Regions from separate parts of the Homo sapiens genome. Here region 2 is linked to region 1. Evidence: fine-mapped expression QTL. A gene starts in region 1. The other region holds a variant in brackets. All regions are shown on one strand. Distances are from middle to middle.

Region 1 (10,117 bases):
GTCCTCTGCTGAAATCCTAACCCCCAAAGTGATGGGATTAGGAAGCGAGGCCTTAGGGAAGTAATTGAGATCATGAGGGTGGAGCCCTCATCAGTGAGATTTGTGCTCCTTTATCAAAGAGGCCCCAGAGGGCTGTCTCTGCTCTCCGCCATCGGAGAGTACCACAAGGAGCCGGCAGTCTGCAGCCAGGAAAAGCACCCTGCCAGAAGCTGACCATGGAAGCACCCAGATCCTGAACTTCAGCTTCCAGAACTGTGAAAAATGAATGCCTGCCATGTATAAGCTACCCGGTCTGCAGTGTTTTCGTTACCGCAGCCTGAGCCAACTGGGACGCACATACAAACACCTCCTCTCCAGTTCTTCATTCTTCTCACCTTCGGGCAGCGTACTGAGCTGGTTCCTCCGGACATTGAGGTCCCGCAGGGAAGAGAGGCCACACAGTTCCGAGGGCAGGGATTGGAGCTCGTTGCTGCTCACGTCCTGGTATCAGGAAGGCAGTGGGAAGGGGCCATGAGACCAGGCCCAGCAGAACCCACCCTCCCATCTCTGTCTTTGCTCCAGGCCCTCCCCAACCTCCCCCTAGAAGGTCCCGCTGCCTGGCTCAGGGGTCCCTTTCCTGGTCCCGTCCCCATCCTCACAAGCTGTCGCAGGCTTCCCAGGGTGCCGATGTCAGGGGGCAGGGCTCCCAGCTTGTTGTTGCTGACGATGAGGACCCTCAGGGGCAGCTGGCAGATGTAGGGTGGCAGCAGCGACAGCTGGTTTCGGCTGTGGAAGGGAGAAAGGCAGCGGACTGGCTCCCCAGGCATGGCATCCCAGCACTGCCATCCTCTCGGGGTCACTGGGTGGGTCACTCAGTAGTACTTGAGACTGAGAAGCACACGCTCCCACGTGGCCCTGGCTCGGCCTCCCTACCTGAGGTTGAGGTAGGTGAGGGCTGTGAGATTCCCCAAGGCTGGGTTCAGGCATCTCAGGCAATTGTGGTAGAGGCTCAGGCCCTCCAGGGACACCAGCTGGCACGCCGCCTCGGGCACCTCGGGAAACCGGTTCCGGGACAGGTCTGGGGAAAAGGAGGTGTCGGGGAGAGTTGCGGAAAGGCCCAGCCCGGACAGGACCTTCAGTCCCCCCAGAGCCGGCTGCCCACTCCCTCACCTCCACACCTAAAGATTCAAGGCCATCAATGTGGCCTCCCAGGAGAGATAACAAAGCCTTCTGCCAACGGGAGCACATTCCAGGCGTGACCAGAATGGCACAGGGAAGGCAAAGGCCTTAGCGTCACTGGGCTAGAGAAGCCTCAGACTTGGGGGTTGGGGAATGTCAATGGAGGGCTATCCTGGAGAGCAGCTGGAATCTCTAACTCCTGTGGTTCCTGTTCAGAGATGCCAGGTGAGGCGGAGGACCGAAGGTGAGAGGAGGGGTCAGTGCTCATGGGAAAACAGTAAGGCGAGGGGCTGGGGGGCTCCCGGAGGGAAGATGGGAAACCCCTGGGGCAAACCACAGGGAGTGCCCATCCCTCCTCGGGGCCCTTCTTCCCTACTCCAGTGTGTTTTCAACACGGGAAAAACCACAGGTCACTCTATCTTGGTTCTAGAGATAAAGTCCCCGACACCGGACGAGTTTTTCGCCAGCCCCAAGGACCAGCAAGCCAGGTCCAAAGAATCATAAAGTTACTGATTCCCAAGGGCTGGGAGGGAAGGGCAAGAAGACCTGGTTGGAGATGGGAGCTGGAGTTCCCAGGTCCCTCCCATCTGGGCTTCTCTGGCCCAGGGCAGGCATCCTTCCTACCCTCTGCTAGCCCTAGCAGCCCGGCTCTGCTTCCTCTCTTACTGACACAGACTTCAAGAGATCAGCAACTGTGTGAGCATCTCAGGCACGGCGAGGGTGGAGAGTGTGGGAGGGCCTGGGGTCTACAATCGCCCTCTTATCTGGAGCACTGCCTTGCTATGCGGAGGCTGGCAGCCTTGGGATTCCCTGTAGCACGGACCCACTAACGGCTTAGACCTGGAGAAGCCTGCCTTTCTGTTTCCTCGGCCCAGCCTGTCCTGGGAGGGGCCCAGGGCCCGCGAGGCGGAGTCCCAGGCCACAGACCTGGTGAGCTTCTCCAAGGGCCCTTCTCAGGGAAGGGCAGGCCAGCAAAAGCAAGCAGAGGAGAGAAGCCGGGTATATCCCCCAAGGAAATGAGTCTTGTGACAGGAAATGAAGTAGAAACAATCTGTCAGGTTCTGGCTCTGGTAGGCCCCGTGTTTACCAGGGTGGATGACAGCCTGATGCCCCGGGACCCCTTTCTCTTCCTCTCTGCCCAGCCCTGGTGCACAGACAGAAGCCCTGGCCTCAGAGATGACCGTTCTGGAGAGGGTGGGGGGATGGCATTTGCCCCTCCCAGCCTCGCCTCCACCTGCCCGCTTTCTCTGCAAATGTGTTTGTGTGTGTGCATGTGGACGAAGGGGGTGGAGACCGAGTTCTCAGAGTTCTGATGGGGTAGGCGGTGGCGGGGACAAAAGCTAGGAGCGGAAGGGAGCTCAGGCAGGAGGCAGGGCACTGGGGGCACAGGATGTGGTCTGGGAGAGAATGAGCTGCACTTCTCCTTTGCAAGATGGCCCCTCCCCGCCACCTCAGGATTCTTCCTACTATCACCCCAGGGAGCCTAGTCCAAGGGAGATCAGGGACCCAAGACTAGGCGACACGCAGCGAAGACACTCAGAAAGAGATGGGAGACGGGAGGGGAAGGCTCAAGGCAGTCCGGGCAGCAAGGCACTGATGCTTTTCGTCTGCTTGGAGGGCGAGGAGAGATGGAGGGCAGGGTATGGGCAACTGTATGTTTTTGTCACTTCCCCTTTCTGTCCCTGCTTGCGGAGAGGGGACAGAGGAGAGAATTCTGGACAAGAGGGACCCCACTTGGCCTAGAACCTGGGCCCTGTGTAGAGAGTGGGGCAGAGGAGGGTTCTTGGGAAGCTGGGATTTCCGACCCCCCCCCAAGCTCACAGGAGCACGGCTGCACCCTGAGCCGGAATGCTGGGGGAGGAGGGGGCCGGGGGCGGGAGCTGGGAGGGGCCGGGGAGCTCCGGGTAGTTTTCCCCAAGAGTCCACACAGGGAGAGACAGCCTAAGGAAGTAAAGAATAACATTTGGTCTTTGTCAAAAAACAACCAAGGGGGAGGGGAAGGGAACAGACAGTGAGTGTCACACAGCTGCTGAGGTCAATCTGGAGTGTGGGGTTAGGTGGGGGTGGGAGGGAACAGGGCTGTAAGGGGCAGGAATGGCTCCTGGAGCTCACTCATTCCCCATCTCAAGTGTTGCAGAGCAGGCGAGATCAGTGGGGAGGTTTCGACTGGTTCTCCCCAGAAGAGGGAAGAGGATGTGTGCCAGTGCCGGCCTGAGTGTTCCCAGGTGAGCAGGCACCTGCTTAGGGAGAAGTAAGCACTATCCTCCAGCTCTGGTCCCCCACCGTGCAGATGAGAGGAGGAAGAGGCCTGGGCTGGGGTGAGGCTTCGGGAATGCAGTCCTCCTCCCTGATCCTGATCCCCACCCCCAGCTGCCGGCCCAAGGTCATAGGCTGCCTCCTGAGTAGCTGAGGCTTGACTCACCTGTCACAGTTAAGTCCCCCACCCCCTACCATCCACAGACACCAGGGTGGAGGGTGCATGGTTGGACAGATCCTGCGGGTGGAGGCGTGGAAGGACAGTCTCTAGCTGGCCAGCACTCCCAGCTAGGAGATAAGATTTCCTTCCCTCCAGCAACGGCCTCAAGTCCCTCCCCCGGGGGAAAGCAGAAACTGAAATGGGAATTCTAAGATCCCTATGAGGTCACAGGCTCCACAGTGACCTCACAGGCTTAGGAAGGAGGAGGAGGAATCTCAGATAAGCCGGTTGGGGATAATAGGCGGAAGAGCTCAGGGAGAAAAGAGTGAGGGGAGGTAGAGATTTGTTTCTTTCCCATAGGCTGGAGAGCTGCGTGGACAGTGGAGAGGGCCAGGACCTTAGGGGGCGGGGTTGCGGCACAGAAAGCAGAAACCTCGGGCTTAGGGGCCAGTCACTGGGAAGGGGGTGCCCGGGGCTGCTCGGATCTCGGTGGGACGGGGGTTAAGAGGTGTAGATGAAGAGGGAGAGAAAGCAGTTATTAGAGGAGCTCGTGGGGACTGCTTCATAGACCGATTGGAGCTGAGGTTAAGAGATCATGTAAATAAGCCAACCAGGTGAGGGGCGGGACCATCCTACAGGTGCGCAGATATGCAAATAAAGAGAAAGGAGGAATCTCTCCCAACGCTCGGAGGCGCAGGGCGTTCTGTGCAAACGAGAAGCACGTTCATTGTCTAGGGGGTTCTCAAAGATGGGAGAGGATGGCTGCAGGTTTAGGGCAATCAGGAGGGGCAGCAACCCTGGCCGCCAGGTGAAGGGGCGGGCCCGACTCCCGGGCCGGGCGGGGCCCGGGGTGGGGCTATGCAAATGAGGGACCCGGTTGGGCCCGGGGCCCGGCTGCACTCACCAGCCTGGGTGATGTCTGACAGGTCGTAGCTACGGGCCGCGCCCCGGGGGAAGTGCTTCAAGCGCCGGTTAGACAGGTTCAGGGTCCCGGTGGCCACGGCCTCCTCTAGGGCCCGCTCTGCACTGCGTCTCCCCGGCAGACCTGGAGACCCGGGCACGGAGGTCGTGGCTGCCGCCTCCTCACCCCCGGCGGCGAGTGGAGCCGCTACGGCCGCCGCCATCCGCTCCCGGCGGCTCCCGCTGCCTGACTGACGGGACCGGCCGTCCCTCCTTCCCCCACCCCCTCCTTGGAGCCGCCGTAGTTGCCTCAAGGGGGAGGGAGCGGTGTCCGGGACCGGACGGACCAATCGTGGCCCCGAGACGCGTCAGAAGCGGCCAATCAGAACCCGTCAGTGGGGGTGGAGCTCCGGCGCCGGAGTCTGACGAGAGAAGGGAGGGGAACAAGGATAGAGCGCTCGCCAACGGCCGACGCTCCAGGCCGTCCCGCCCAGCGCAGCTGCACCCAATCACAATGCTCAGATCGGGAGGTGGAGCCAATCAGGTCCAACCAAGAGGAGGGGACACCGGCACTCCACTAGCAGGAAAACGGGCCGAGGGACCGCAAGCAGGGGGTGCCTAGTCCTCGTCCCCCAAAGACCAATCGTAAGCCAGATACAGGCGAGTGACTGTCAAGAAGGCCAATTAGAGCCTCCGAAGGGAATCTGGACCTGCCTCTTCTCTGAGGGACGGCTCTACCTACCAATAGCATGGGCGAGAAGGCGGTCCCTTTGCTAAGGAGGAGGCGGGTGAGCTAGAACTTTAAGACTGAGGTTAAGAATGAACGCGGAGCCCCTGGCCGGCCGGGAACGCAGTTCGCCGCTGCAGTGGCGAGTGCGAGCTGGACGTGTTAGGGGGCTAGCCGGCGTCCAGGGCTTGAGGGGATTCGGGCGACTGCTTGAGGCCAGTGCACTGGCGGTTGTCGCAGCTGAAGGGGCAGCGGGGGGACCTCCGACTGTGAAGCCTCTGGCAGGGGTCTCGGGACCCCCGGGCTGGGGGCGGGCGGGGGGCTTCCCAGAGCCTGGAGATGCCCAGCTCGAGGAGGGAGGGTGTAGGTGCAGCGTTGCACGGTCTGCCGTCTCACCCGAGGAGCTCCCCTGGACAGGAATGGAGAGGGGACCAGACCACGGGGTTTTAGAGGCTTAGAAAGGATCTCACCGCCTAGAACACGCCCTTGGTGCTACGAATGCAGAAACTGAGGCAGAGGGAAGTTGATGCGTTAGCAAGAGCGAACAGCAAGTTCCTGACAGCTGGCTTGCTCTAGAAACCAGGTCTCTGGATCCTCCACGCACAGCCCTTTCCCGCTCCCTCAGTTTTCACAGTGGATGTTTTCACTCCCTTCCTCTCTTCCTCCCTCCCTCCCTCTCCCTTCCGTTCCCTTCCTCTTTTTATTTTTTTATTTTTTGAGATGGAGTCTCGCTCAGTCGCCCAGGCTGGAGTGCAGTGGCGCGATCTCGGCTCACAGCAACCTCCACTGTCCGGGTTCAAGCAATTCTCCTGCCTCAGCCTCCCGAGTAGCTGGGACTACAGGCGCCCGCCACCACACCCGGCTAATTTTTTGTATTTTAGTAGAGACGGGGTTTCACCGTGTTGCCCAGGCTGGTCGCAAACTCAGGAGCTCAGGCAATATGCCCTCCTCGGCCTCCCAAAGTGCTGGCATTACAGGCGTGAGCCACCGCGCCCGGCCTTTTTTTTTTTTTTTTTAAGAAGGTCTGATTCTGTCGCCCAGGCTGGAGTGCAGTGGTGCAGTCATGGCTCACTGCAGCCTTGAATGCCTGGGCTCAAGTGATCCTCCTGCCTCAGCCTCCCAAGTAGCTGGGACCACGGGCGGCACCACTGCACCTGGCTAATTTATTTTCAATTTTTGTAGAGATGGGGTTTTGCTATGTTGCCCAGGCTGGTCTCAAACTTTTGACCTCAAGCGATCCTGCCTCTGCCTCCCAAAGTACTGGGATCACAGGCGTGAGCCACCGCACCCGGCCCACAGTGGACTTTTTCTTTCTTTTGAGACAGAGTCGCTCTGTTGCCCAGGCTGGAGTGCAGTGGCTTGATCGCAGCTCACTGCAGCCTCAACCTCCCACCTCAGCCTCCCGAGTAACTGGGACTACAAGCACGCACCACCATGCCAGCTAATTGTATTTTTTGTAGAGACAGGGTCCTACTATGTTGCCCAGGCTGATCTCAAACTCCTGGGCTCAAGCAATGCTCCCACCTCGGCCTCCCGAAGTGCTGGGATTATAAGCGTGAGCCACAAAGCCTGGCCCACAGTGGACTTTTTCTATTCACAACCTCTCGTTTGCCTCCTGGGGTGAAATGGAGTGGATAAAGGGGACCCAAATGCAAGAGGAATGGAAAATACCTTTCTGTCTACTTGGAGATCTTCCTTTCTAAGTGGCATGAGTCCCTAATGCAGTCCCCTCCCTATGTGGTAGGTTGCCCAGAAATAAGTCACTGAAGTTGCTTTCTCCTTAGTTCACATCTCAGAGGTTGATATTCCTGAGTAGTTGCTGAAGAATTAAAATTCCATCTCAGGCATCCCAGCCTAGCCATGGCTAGGCACCATACATAAGGGAATTTGGGTGGTCAGTCTGGTGCAGTCAATGAACGGATCTGTGACACTGTGTGGTGAGGGCTGGTGGTCTGGCAGGATGGGACTCCTTTGAGCCCCTGCAAGAGCCAGCCACTCCTTGGATTTATTGGTGTAGATCTGGCCTGAGTGGGACAGACACAACCCTGACCCCTGCTGTTTCTCCTGATAAATGTCACCCCACATAAGACAAAGCTAATATCAGAGACCCTGGGAGAAATCCTAAGCTTTCAGAGGAAATCCATCCCTTTCTCCCACCTTAATAGGTTGTCCTTTATACATGCAATGATGTTACTGTCCCTCAGGAAAGCAAAAGCAGTCTTCTTTTTTGTTTGTTTTTTTTGAAACTGGGTATCATTCTCGCCCGGGCTGGAGTGCAGTGGCACGATCATAGCTCACTGCTGCCTCAAACTGGGCTCAAGCAATCCTCCTGCCTCAGCCTCCTGTGTAGCTGGGACTACAGGGGTGCATCACCACGCCTGGGTAATTTTTAAGTTTTTTTTTTTTTTTAATAGACGCAGGGTCTATGTTGACCAGGCTGGTCTTGAAACCCATGGCCTCAAGCCATCCTTGCACCATGGCCACCCAAAAGTGCTGGGATTTCGGGCGTTAGCCACCGGCACCAGGCTGCAGTCTCCTTTTGGATGTGTTTTTTCACAAGTCTAAAGAGTTTGCTGAATCATTTGTGAGCTAAACGATTATTAGCACAGTCACCTCTCCATCTCACCTGTCAAACTGAGTTTATAGTTTTTTGAGTCTATACTCTTGAGCTACCAATCCCTAGAGGCCTTGGCCTGCTGAAATGTGAGGAATTCACTAGTGTTTCTCTACAGAGTTAGTGCTAAAAGGGCCTCAAATAGGAAAACTTCCTCCTGCTCCCTGAAATAAAGATGTCACCTACCAGTAATTCACACTTTATTTCTCCAGTAAAATGCATATCCCTTGAGCCATGTGATGGCTAGAACTGAGCTAGAACCCAGGAGCTGTCTAAGAGATGGGTCCTGGGCAAGATTAAAGGGAACAGGTCACAGTGGCCAAACAGTGAGGTCACAGAGAGGTTTGTTAGCCCCAGACTCCATGGGGGAGGGGCCTAGGAGGCAGAGGGGCCTCAGAGGTCCCCCAAGCCTAGGCTGGGGACATGGTGTGGGAAAGCCAGCAGGAACGGGGGGGCCAAGGGCCTAGGAGACAGGAGGGCAGGAGCAGGGAGGGGGCAATCAGGATGGTCAGGGGAAGCCAGAGACGGAAGCTGCAAAAATTCACCAGGCTGTGTGGACGGGAGGAGGGGCTCCGGGTGAGGGGGATTGGCCGCAGGAGATCGGGAGGAGTTATTTGGAGAAGTTAGGGATGGGTCTGGAGAGAGAGGGGAGGAAATAACTGTGCCCAGCTAGAGTCAGATGAGCCCCAAGGTAGGCGGAGAGAAGGGAAAAAAGGATGTGGGACCCTCATGGGACCCTATGCACCCCTTCTTGGGTAGGTGAAGAGAAGCTGCCCTTCTTGTGGCTCGGAGCTTGGGGTTGAAGAGAAGAGGGGGAAAGGAAATCCGATTTCCATCCAGTTGTTCCCCCCAGAGCTGGTGAGTCCTTGGGGAGGGGGATTGAGAATAATAGGATTGGGGGCCAGATCACCGAGGGGCCACCAAAGACTCCCCGCTTCTTCCCTCCTCCCTCCCAGGTGGAGCATATCATCTCATTCCTCCCAGTCAGAGACCTTGTTGCCCTCGGCCAGACCTGCCGCTACTTCCACGAAGTGTGCGATGGGGAAGGCGTGTGGAGACGCATCTGTCGCAGACTCAGTCCGCGCCTCCAAGATCAGGGTTCTGGAGTCCGGCCCTGGAAGAGAGCTGCCATTCTGAACTGTACACCTTCCCCAGAACCTCCCGTTCTCCTTGCCTCTGTCCCGCCTTAGCCTTCCTGCTCTCTAAAGTCCCCTGATGACCCCCACACTCCCAACAGTGCTTCCAGGGCCCCTTTCTCCGGAAGAAACGGGTCCAGTTCAAACATTCTCCCTTGAGTACTTCCTCCAAGTCTTCGGAATCCACCCACAGCCCCCGTTAGCGGCCTCCCTGCCAAGTCTCCCTCTGTACACAGACACTTCCCGCTTTTTCCCTAGAGGCATCCCTCACTCCCCAAACCTGGAGTTTTCCCTCCTCTAACCCAAGGCTTCTGAACTCACTGTTGATATTCTGGGCAAAATAATTCCTTGATGTGGGGAGCTGTCCTCTGCATGGTGGGATGTTTAAGCAGCAACCCTGGCCTCCACCCACCAGATGGCCAGCAGCATCCCCCTTAATTGTGACAACCAATGCCCTTGAAGGACAAAATCACCCCTAGCCTGAGAACCATGCCATAAACCCTCTTCCCCTCCAGGGATCCCCCAGGGTGTACTTCTTACACTCACTGGGAGATTAAAAGAGAAGGGGGACCCAGAAAACAGATCCAAAGCTAGGGGTGAGGGAGGATGACCGGCCTTCATCAATCATTCCTTTTCACTCCTGTTTCTGTCTCTTCTCTTTTCTTTCTTTTTCTTTGATTTTTTTTTTTTTTTTTTTTTTTTGAGACAGGGTCTTGCTCTGTCACCCAGGCTGGAGCACAGTGGTGCAATCTTGGCTCAATGCAACCTCCACCTCCCGGGTTCAAGTATTCTCGTGCCTCAGCCTCCTGAGTAGCTGGGATTACAGGCTCCCGCCACCACACCCGGATAATTTTTGTATTTTTAGTAGAGATGGGGTTTTGCCACGTTGCCCAGGCTGGTCTCAAACTCCTGGGCTCCCAAAGTGCTGGGATTACAGGCGTGCAAAAATTCACTGAGCTGTGAGGATGGGAGGAGGGGCTCAGGGTGAGGGGGGTGGATGCCGCACGCAGCCTCTGTGTCTTTATTCTTAGAGTTTTCCTCAACATCACTGATGCAAGGTTGCACCAAAGAACTGCTCACTAAGAAGCAAATGTTTGACCCTGGGCTGAGGTGGGGTGGAGACTAAAGTTCACATGTCGAGTATAATCTAAGCTTATTTTCCACAT
Region 2 (10,117 bases), 280 kb before region 1:
GGGCCCTTAAAGATCATCTTATCTGGTTGGGCTCAATGGCTCATGTGTGTAATTCCAGCACTCTGAGAGGCCAAGGCAAGAGGATCGCTTGTGACCAAGAGTTCAAGACCAGTCTGGGCAACAGAGCAAGATGCTATATCTACTACAGGCATGCACCTGTAGTCTCAGCTACTTGGGAGGGTGAGAGAAGAGGATTGCTTGAGCCCAGGAGGCAACAGAGAGCTGATTGTACCACTGCACCCCAGCCAAGGCAACAGAGACCTTGTCTCTAAAAAACAAAAACAGGCCAGGTGCAGTGTCTTATGCCTGTATTCCCAGCACTTTGACAGGCAGAGGCAGGTGGATCATTTGAAGTCAGGTGTTCAAGATCAGCCTGGCAAACATGACGAAACCCTAAAATACAAAAATTAGCCGGGAGTGGTGGTGGGTGCCTGTAATCTCAGCTACTCGGGAGGCTGAGGCAGGAGAATCACTTGAACCTGGGAGGCAGAGGTTGCAGTGAGCCGAGATGGAGCCACTGCACTGCAGCCTGGGTGACAAGAGCGAAACTCTGTCTCAAAATATTAGGAAAAAAAAAGAGAGAGAGCCTCTTTTCCATCTCCCCGCCACAGAGTTGTCTTCAGTAATTTCATTCCCTTTTTTCCTGAGGATTCACTGGGTTTCTGGGTCCCAGAGGGGAAGTTCTCTTCAAGGTACAGAAACCACGACTCCGCAGAGAACCGCAGAGACGGCGGCATGACCAGACCACGGACAGGTGTGGAGAAGCTGCTGGGCTAAAACTTGGGCTGAACTTCCGCTGCAGGTCGACTTATTCCCATCAGCACCAAAGCCACTGGAGGGGGTCATCCACTAGCAAATGAAGTGGGGGCACGGATTGGAGGCTGTTTCAGAAGGTCCCACTGAGCCACGGACTCAAGGCCTGGCCACAGCCCTCCCAAGCAAGGCCCAGATCATATTTCACCACGCTCAGAAAACCTTGTCAGCTCATTTCAGTCCACGGTGACTTTGCTTTCTTTAGGATCTCTCTTGCACTGTCCAACTCAGAGAATTTCAAATCTGAATGGATTCCAATGATGGAGCTAAATCAGGCCTCACCTCAGTTTTTTAATTACAATCAATAGGGCTGGGTCCCAGCATCTGTGTCTTAATGTTCCTCCATGTGATCCTCATGCTGAAAGGCTGGTATTTGAAAATCCCTTTTTTTGGGGAGTGAAGGGTTTTTTTTAGAGACAGGCCTCACTCTGATGCCCAGCCTGGAATGCAGTGGTAGATCACAGCTCACTGCAGCCTCGAACTCCTGGCCGCAAGAAATCCTCCCACCTTAGCCAACCAAAGTGTTGGGATTGCAGGAGTGACCACTGTGTCCAGCCAGGAAAGCCCTTCTGTTTCACTTGAATGATATTTCTGCCGCAGACCTACAGCCATTGTTGTATTAAACGGCATCATTGCAGGAAAAGAAAAGGTGAGAGGTGACTGTTTTGCTTTTTTCTGAACATATCAGACCAAACCTGGGCTGTCTGGCACTTTTTTTTTTTTTTTGAGTCGGAGTCTCACTCTGTCGCCCAGGCTGGAGTGTAGTGTCGTGATCTCGGCTCACTGGAACCTCCACCATCCCGGTTCAAGTGATTCTCCTGCCTCAGCCCCGCAAGTAGCTGGAATTACAGAAGTGCACTCCCACACCCAGCTCATTGTTTCTGTATTTTTACAGAAAAACAGACAGGTTTCACCATGTTGGCCAGGCTGATCTCAACCTCCTCACCTCTGGTTATCTGTCGGCATCGGCTTCCAAAAGTGCTGGGATTACAAGTGTGAGCCACCGCGCCTGGTTTGCCCATTTTTTGACAATGTATCAACATCATCTAAGATGGGCACTGCCTCAGTGTAGTGTGTCTAGACAAGGTGGCCGGAACAGAGAGGAATATGCATACCAGGCTTAAAGACGGGTTAAATCAGAGCTTTTCATTCCACAAAAGAGCAATTTTAATGAGGTCAGAACATGGATGTTCTAATATTTGAAAGCCTGTTAACTAGGAGAGAGAGAGAGTAAAGTGATTTGTTGTAGGAGGACACACCCAGCTCTGACGGTTTAAAGCGTCATGAATGCAAATTTGAACTCCAGAAAAGCAGAGCTTCCTAACAATGGGACTTCCACAGCAATGGGATTTCCTTCCACATTCAGTTTGTGCCTTTCCCATGAGCGAGAGACTCCTAGGAGAGCCGCAGCCCGTTAGGAAGCCATGTGGGAACTCATCCACAGGTTCTTTTTGTTTGTTTTTTTTTTTTTTTTGAGATGTAGTTTTGCTCTTGTTGCCCAGGCTGGAGTGCAATGGTGCGACCTTGGCTCACTGCAACCTCCGCCTCCCAAGTTTAAGCCATTCTGCTGCCCCCGCCTCCTGAGTGGCTGGGATTACAGGCACCCACCACCATGCCTGACTAATTTTTTGTATTTTTAGAAGAGATGGGGTTTCACCATGTTGGCCAGGCTGCTCTTAAACTCCTGACCTCAAGCGATCCACCTGCTATGGCCTCCCAAAGCGCTGGGATTACAGGCGTGAGCCACTGTGCCTGGCCGGAACCCACAGGTTCTTTGGATGGTCTCTGAATGTCATGAAACTCTTTTATATTTAATTAAAAAAATTTTTTTGACACAAGGTCTTGCTGTGTTGCCCAGACTGGAGTGCGGTGTCACGATCACAGCTCACTGCAGCCCCTAACTCCTAGGCTCAAGCAATCCTCCTGCCACCTCAGTCTCTCAAGTTGTTGGAACACAGGTGCCAGCCACGACACCTGGCTAATTTTGTTCTGTTTTGTTTTGTTTTGTTTGAGATGGGGTCTTGCTATGTTGCCTACACTGGTCTTGAACTGCTGGCCTCAGGCAGTCTTCCTCCCTTGGCCACCCAAAGAGATGGGATTGCAAGCATGAGCCACTGTGCACAGCTGAGATTTTTCGACTTAGTCTTTTTGTACACCCAGTATCTTATAGAATATCCATAATATAGATTCATAAATAAACCATTTCCTTCAATAGTATAAATAAATAAACCACTGCTATAAATGGTGGAATTTCTGAGTTAAGAGCAATACATATGATACAAAACTTGATATATAGAGTTTCTTAGCCAAACTGGAGGGGCTGGCTTTAGGTGATCCGTGGACTCCCTGAAACTGGGGACACCATTGGAAATATGTGTGAGCTCATGGGCAGTTTCCGATGATTTCCAGTCCTCAAAATATCTCTTGGACTCAAAGATGCCTTAGGGCAGAGGACACGTTACACCCAGTACAGAATCTCGGACAGTGAATATCAGTAAACATTCGGCAGAAAAGCTCTGCCAAATTGAGTGCTCTGATGTGACTTTTTCATCAAGTCAATGTTCCTGGGATCTCTTGTACATGATACTCTCACTCTTATAAGGTTTCATCGTTTCTGCTTACCCTAGTTTTCTTTCCCATCCTGATCCCTCTCCCACCAGACTGGACTCTGAAACGGGCATGTACAGAGAAGAGGAGACCCCAACACGCTTCAAGCTTTGAGTGGAGAGGACACAGCCTCTGCTGGGACAGGGAACAGAGGGATGCGGAGACCCTGAAGATGCTTTTGGACAGTGGTCTGAGGTTGGGACAGTGGCAGGAGATACCATTCACCCAGGATCTCCAGGACAAGAGATCAGCCTGGCAGTTACATGTGTTTTTGTTCAAACTGGTTGCCAGGTTGGAATGACCTATGACATCAGAGATTCCGACCTTCCTGATTGGAAGGACCGGACTCTGTCGGCGCCTGGCAGTTCAGGTGAACAACAGTAACTTCTCAGAGCTGTTCTCCACTCCTGACTTCTCCCAGCCTCGAGAATTGATAACACACTCTTCTGGATCCCAGCAGTGTCCAGAAGAAGACCAAGGACAGAACAGAGACTAGCTTCGGTGAGATTGGACAGATTTTGGGAAAGATCATGACGAGCCATCAACCGCAGCCCCAGGAAGAGCAGAGCCCCCAGCGGAGCACCTCAGGGTACCCCCTCCAGGAGGTGGTGGATGATGAAGTGTCGGGACCATCAGGTGAGGGGACTGGAGGAAGAAGAGGTGGCATAGGATTGACTAAGACGAAGGAAGGGGGCCAGGTGCGGTAGCTCACCCCTGTAACACCAACACTTTGGGAGGCCGAGGCGGGCAGATCACCTGAGGTCAGCAGTTCAAGACCAGCCTGGCCAACATGGTGAAACCCCATCTCTACTAAAAGTACAAAAATTAGCCAGGCGGTAGTGGTGTGTGCCTATAATCCCAGCTACTCGGGAGGCTGAGACAGGAGAATCGCTTGAGCCTGGGAGGAAGAGGGTGCAGTGAGCCGAGATCGTGCTACTGCACTCCAGTCTGGGTGAGAGAGTGAGACGCTGTCTCAAAAAAAAAAAAAAAAAAAGAAGAAGAAAAAAAAGAAGGGTCAGAGGTCAGGAAGGAGAACCTGGGGAGGGTGTGTGGGAAGAATGGAGAAATTCAGGCTGGGTGCAGTGGCTCACACCTGTAATCCCAGCACTTTGGGAAGCCAAGGCAGGCGGATCACGTGAGGCCAAGAGTTTGAGACCAGCCTGGCCAACATGGCGAAACCCCGTCTCTACTAAAAGTACAAAATTGAGCTGGGCATTATGGCAGGCACCTGTAATCCCAGCTACCTGAGAGGCTGAGGCAGGAGAATAACTGGAATCCGGGAGAT[G/A]GATGTTGCAGTGAGCTGAGATTGTACCACTACACTCCAGCCTGGGTGACAAAGCAAGATTCTGTCTCGAAACAAAAAAAAAAAAAGAGGGCCTCAGAGAGCCAGGGACCAGGGAACGATATGACGCAGTGTTCTGAGGACAGAGAGAGGGAAGAATGGGGAGGGGAAGGAGTGGCACATGGGGTTGAGCAGAGGAGAAAGTCAGAAAGGTGGCTTGGAGAAGCCAGCAGTCTGAGAGGCTGGGGAGGATGGAGAATGGTTTGGGGTTTGGGGTCGGGGTCTAACGTGATCAGTTGCAGAAGCATTACACGGTGGCCTGGTTTCTTTACTCAGCCCCTGGGGTAGATCCCAGCCCCCCACGTAGGTCCCTTGGCTGCAAAAGGAAGAGGGAGTGTTTGGATGAATCTGATGATGAGCCAGAGAAGGAGCTCGCCCCTGAGCCTGAGGAGACCTGGGTGGCGGAGACGCTGTGTGGCCTCAAGATGAAGGCGAAGCGACGGCGAGTGTCGCTCGTGCTCCCTGAGTACTACGAGGCCTTCAACAGGCTGCTTGGTAGGAGGACACCCCAGAGAGCACCTCCAATCCTGTTCTTTCTAAAAAGAGGAAACTTCCAATAACCACACTTTTCCAATGGGAAAAATATGCCCCAGTGGGTGAGCTCTCCATGCGGGAGGACTCTGAAGTGATCACTCATGAGGGACACTTAGGAGACAACAGAGGATTAGGTAGACTTGATAAAGGTCGGTGCTTGGGATAAGAAAGCTTGGTTTTGGGCCAGGCGCTGTGGCTCCCGCCTGAGATCCCAGCACGTTGGGAGGCTGAGGCAAGAGGATTGCTTGAACTCAGGACTTCGAGGCTGCAGTGAGCTATGACTGCACCACTGCACTCCAGCCTGAGTGACAGAGCAAAACTCTGCGTCAAAAGAAAAACCAAGGCTGGGCACAGTAGCTCATGCCTGTAGTTCCAGCTACTCGGGAGGCTGAGACAGGAGAATCGCTTGAGCCTGGGAGGAAGAGGGTGCAGTGAGCCGAGATCGTGCTACTGCACTCCAGTCTGGGTGAGAGAGTGAGACGCTGTCTCAAAAAAAAAAAAAAAAAAGAAGAAAAAAAAGAAGGGTCAGAGGTCAGGAAGGAGAACCTGGGGAGGGTGTGTGGGAAGAATGGAGAAATTCAGGCTGGGTGCAGTGGCTCACACCTGTAATCCCAGCACTTTGGGAAGCCAAGGCAGGTGGATCACGTGAGGCCAGGAGTTTGAGACCAGCCTGGCCAACATGGTGAAACCCCCGTCTCTACTAAAAGTACAAAATTGAGCTGGGCATTATGGCAGGCACCTGTAATCCCAGCTACCTGAGAGGCTGAGGCAGGAGAATAACTGGAATCCGGGAGATAGATGTTGCAGTCAGCTGAGATTGCACCACTACACTCCAGCCTGGGTGACAAAGCAAGATTCTGTCTCGAAACAGAAAAAAAAAAGAGGGCCTCAGAGAGCCAGGGACCAGGGAACGATATGACGCAGTGTTCTGAGGACAGAGAGAGGGAAGAATGGGGAGGGGAAGGAGTGGCACATGGGGTTGAGCAGAGGAGAAAGTCAGAAAGGTGGCTTGGAGAAGCCAGCAGTCTGAGAGGCTGGGGAGGATGGAGAGTGGTTTGGGGTTTGGGGTCGGGGTCTAACGTGATCAGTTGCAGAAGCATTACACGGTGGCCTGGTTTCTTTACTCAGCCCCTGGGGTAGATCCCAGCCCCCCACGTAGGTCCCTTGGCTGCAAAAGGAAGAGGGAGTGTTTGGATGAATCTGATGATGAGCCAGAGAAGGAGCTCGCCCCTGAGCCTGAGGAGACCTGGGTGGCGGAGACGCTGTGTGGCCTCAAGATGAAGGCGAAGCGACGGCGAGTGTCGCTCGTGCTCCCTGAGTACTACGAGGCCTTCAACAGGCTGCTTGGTAGGAGGACACCCCAGAGAGCACCTCCAATCCTGTTCTTTCTAAAAAGAGGAAACTTCCAATAACCACACTTTTCCAATGGGAAAAATATGCCCCAGTGGGTGAGCTCTCCATGCGGGAGGACTCTGAAGTGATCACTCATGAGGGACACTTAGGAGACAACAGAGGATTAGGTAGACTTGATAAAGGTCGGTGCTTGGGATAAGAAAGCTTGGTTTTGGGCCAGGCGCTGTGGCTCCCGCCTGAGATCCCAGCACGTTGGGAGGCTGAGGCAAGAGGATTGCTTGAACTCAGGACTTTGAGGCTGCAGTGAGCTATGACTGCACCACTGCACTCCAGCCTGGGTGACAGAGCAAAACTCTGCGTCAAAAGAAAAACCAAGGCTGGGCACAGTAGCTCATGCCTGTAGTTCCAGCTACTCGGGAGGCTGAGACAGGAGAATCGCTTGAGCCTGGGAGGAAGAGGGTGCAGTGAGCCGAGATCGTGCTACTGCACTCCAGTCTGGGTGAGAGAGTGAGACGCTGTCTCAAAAAAAAAAAAAAAAAAAGAAGAAGAAAAAAAAGAAGGGTCAGAGGTCAGGAAGGAGAACCTGGGGAGGGTGTGTGGGAAGAATGGAGAAATTCAGGCTGGGTGCAGTGGCTCACACCTGTAATCCCAGCACTTTGGGAAGCCAAGGCAGGCGGATCACGTGAGGCCAGGAGTTTGAGACCAGCCTGGCCAACATGGTGAAACCCCCGTCTCTACTAAAAGTACAAAATTGAGCTGGGCATTATGGCAGGCACCTGTAATCCCAGCTACCTGAGAGGCTGAGGCAGGAGAATAACTGGAATCCGGGAGATAGATGTTGCAGTCAGCTGAGATTGCACCACTACACTCCAGCCTGGGTGACAAAGCAAGATTCTGTCTCGAAACAAAAAAAAAAAAGAGGGCCTCAGAGAGCCAGGGACCAGGGAAGGATATGACGCAGTGTTCTGAGGACAGAGAGAGGGAAGAATGGGGAGGGGAAGGAGTGGCACATGGGGTTGAGCAGAGGAGAAAGTCAGAAAGGTGGCTTGGAGAAGCCAGCAGTCTGAGAGGCTGGGGAGGATGGAGAATGGTTTGGGGTTTGGGGTCGGGGTCTAACGTGATCAGTTGCAGAAGCATTACACGGTGGCCTGGTTTCTTTACTCAGCCCCTGGGGTAGATCCCAGCCCCCCACGTAGGTCCCTTGGCTGCAAAAGGAAGAGGGAGTGTTTGGATGAATCTGATGATGAGCCAGAGAAGGAGCTCGCCCCTGAGCCTGAGGAGACCTGGGTGGCAGAGACGCTGTGTGGCCTCAAGATGAAGGCGAAGCGACGGCGAGTGTCGCTCGTGCTCCCTGAGTACTACGAGGCCTTCAACAGGCTGCTTGGTAGGAGGACACCCCAGAGAGCACCTCCAATCCTGTTCTTTCTAAAAAGAGGAAACTTCCAATAACCACACTTTTCCAATGGGAAAAATATGCCCCAGTGGGTGAGCTCTCCATGCGGGAGGACTCTGAAGTGATCACTCATGAGGGACACTTAGGAGTCAACAGAGGATTAGGTAGACTTGATAAAGGTCGGTGCTTGGGATAAGAAAGCTTGGTTTTGGGCCAGGCGCTGTGGCTCCCGCCTGAGATCCCAGCACGTTGGGAGGCTGAGGCAAGAGGATTGCTTGAACTCAGGACTTTGAGGCTGCAGTGAGCTATGACTGCACCACTGCACTCCAGCCTGGGTGACAGAGCAAAACTCTGCGTCAAAAGAAAAGCCAAGGCTGGGCACAGTAGCTCATGCCTGTAGTTCCAGCTACTCGGGAGGCTGAGACAGGAGAATCGCTTGAGCCTGGGAGGAAGAGGGTGCAGTGAGCCAAGATCGTGCTACTGCACTCCAGTCTGGGTGAGAGAGTGAGACGCTGTCTCAAAAAAAAAAAAAAAAAAAGAAGAAGAGAAAAAAGAAGGGTCAGAGGTCAGGAAGGAGAACCTGGGGAGGGTGTGTGGGAAGAATGGAGAAATTCAGGCTGGGTGCAGTGGCTCACACCTGTAATCCCAGCACTTTGGGAAGCCAAGGCAGGCGGATCACGTGAGGCCAGGAGTTTGAGACCAGCCTGGCCAACATGGTGAAACCCCCGTCTCTACTAAAAGTACAAAATTGAGCTGGGCATTATGGCAGGCACCTGTAATCCCAGCTACCTGAGAGGCTGAGGCAGGAGAATAACTGGAATCCGGGAGATAGATGTTGCAGTCAGCTGAGATTGCACCACTACACTCCAGCCTGGGTGACAAAGCAAGATTCTGTCTCGAAACAAAAAAAAAAAAGAGGGCCTCAGAGAGCCAGGGACCAGGGAACGATATGTCGCAGTGTTCTGAGGACAGAGAGAGGGAAGAATGGGGAGGGGAAGGAGTGGCACATGGGGTTGAGCAGAGGAGAAAGTCAGAAAGGTGGCTTGGAGAAGCCAGCAGTCTGCGAGGCTGGGGAGGATGGAGAGTGGTTTGGGGTTTGGGGTCGGGGTCTAACGTGATCAGTTGCAGAAGCATTACACGGTGGCCTGGTTTCTTTACTCAGCCCCTGGGGTAGATCCCAGCCCCCCACGTAGGTCCCTTGGCTGCAAAAGGAAGAGGGAGTGTTTGGATGAATCTGATGATGAGCCAGAGAAGGAGCTCGCCCCTGAGCCTGAGGAGACCTGGGTGGCGGAGACGCTGTGTGGCCTCAAGATGAAGGCGAAGCGACGGCGAGTGTCGCTCGTGCTCCCTGAGTACTACGAGGCCTTCAACAGGCTGCTTGGTAGGAGGACACCCCAGAGAGCACCTCCAATCCTGTTCTTTCTAAAAAGAGGAAACTTCCAATAACCACACTTTTCCAATGGGAATAATATGCCCCAGTGGGTGAGCTCTCCATGCGGGAGGACTCTGAAGTGATCACTCATGAGGGACACTTAGGAGACAACAGAGGATTAGGTAGACTTGATAAAGGTCGGTGCTTGGGATAAGAAAGCTTGGTTTTGGGCCAGGCGCTGTGGCTCCCGCCTGAGATCCCAGCACGTTGGGAGGCTGAGGCAAGAGGATTGCTTGAACTCAGGACTTTGAGGCTGCAGTGAGCTATGACTGCACCACTGCACTCCAGCCTGGGTGACAGAGCAAAACTCTGCGTCAAAAGAAAAACCAAGGCTGGGCACAGTAGCTCATGCCTGTAGTTCCAGCTACTCGGGAGGCTGAGACAGGAGAATCGCTTGAGCCTGGGAGGAAGAGGGTGCAGTGAGCCGAGATCGTGCTACTGCACTCCAGTCTGGGTGAGAGAGTGAGACGCTGTCTCAAAAAAAAAAAAAAAAAAAAAAGAAGAAGAAAAAAAAGAAGGGTCAGAGGTCAGGAAGGAGAACCTGGGGAGGGTGTGTGGGAAGAATGGAGAAATTCAGGCTGGGTGCAGTGGCTCACACCTGTAATCCCAGCACTTTGGGAAGCCAAGGCAGGCGGATCACGTG

Which allele goes with the higher level. Positions count from the first base shown, and alleles are read on the strand shown. Sizes are in standard deviations (SD) of each study's normalised expression.
In carriers of allele G in region 2, the expression in CD4 T cells of the gene that starts at base 4,727 in region 1 tends to be lower than with A alone (large effect, 2.3 SD a copy in BLUEPRINT).

The links.
Region 2: its variant is fine-mapped to the expression of LRCH4 in CD4 T cells (BLUEPRINT, PIP 0.95).

Annotation. Positions count from the first base shown.
Region 1 is chr7:100,581,403-100,591,519 of GRCh38, forward strand. It overlaps LRCH4 (leucine rich repeats and calponin homology domain containing 4), which reads right to left and starts at 4,727. Exons shown (of 18, transcript NM_002319.5): 1 at 4,479-4,727; 2 at 913-1,057; 3 at 639-765; 4 at 375-480. The coding sequence starts at 4,698. It overlaps FBXO24 (F-box protein 24), which reads left to right and starts at 4,926. Exons shown (of 10, transcript NM_033506.3): 1 at 4,926-5,262; 2 at 8,575-8,673; 3 at 8,772-8,955. The coding sequence starts at 5,224. It overlaps PCOLCE-AS1 (PCOLCE antisense RNA 1), which reads right to left. Exons shown (of 9, transcript NR_038910.1): 8 at 8,828-8,929; 9 at 7,999-8,680. RefSeq lists enhancers at 2,202-2,890, 2,344-2,638, 2,611-2,770, 3,036-3,549, 3,550-4,063 and 1 more and silencers at 4,205-4,254, 4,295-4,724, 5,485-5,604.
Region 2 is chr7:100,303,936-100,314,052 of GRCh38, forward strand. SPDYE3 (speedy/RINGO cell cycle regulator family member E3) reads left to right here and starts at 3,767. Exons shown (of 11, transcript NM_001004351.5): 1 at 3,767-4,056; 2 at 5,039-5,257; 3 at 6,425-6,643; 4 at 7,815-8,033; 5 at 9,205-9,423. The coding sequence starts at 3,951. The variant G/A (reference allele first, on the strand shown) is at 4,706.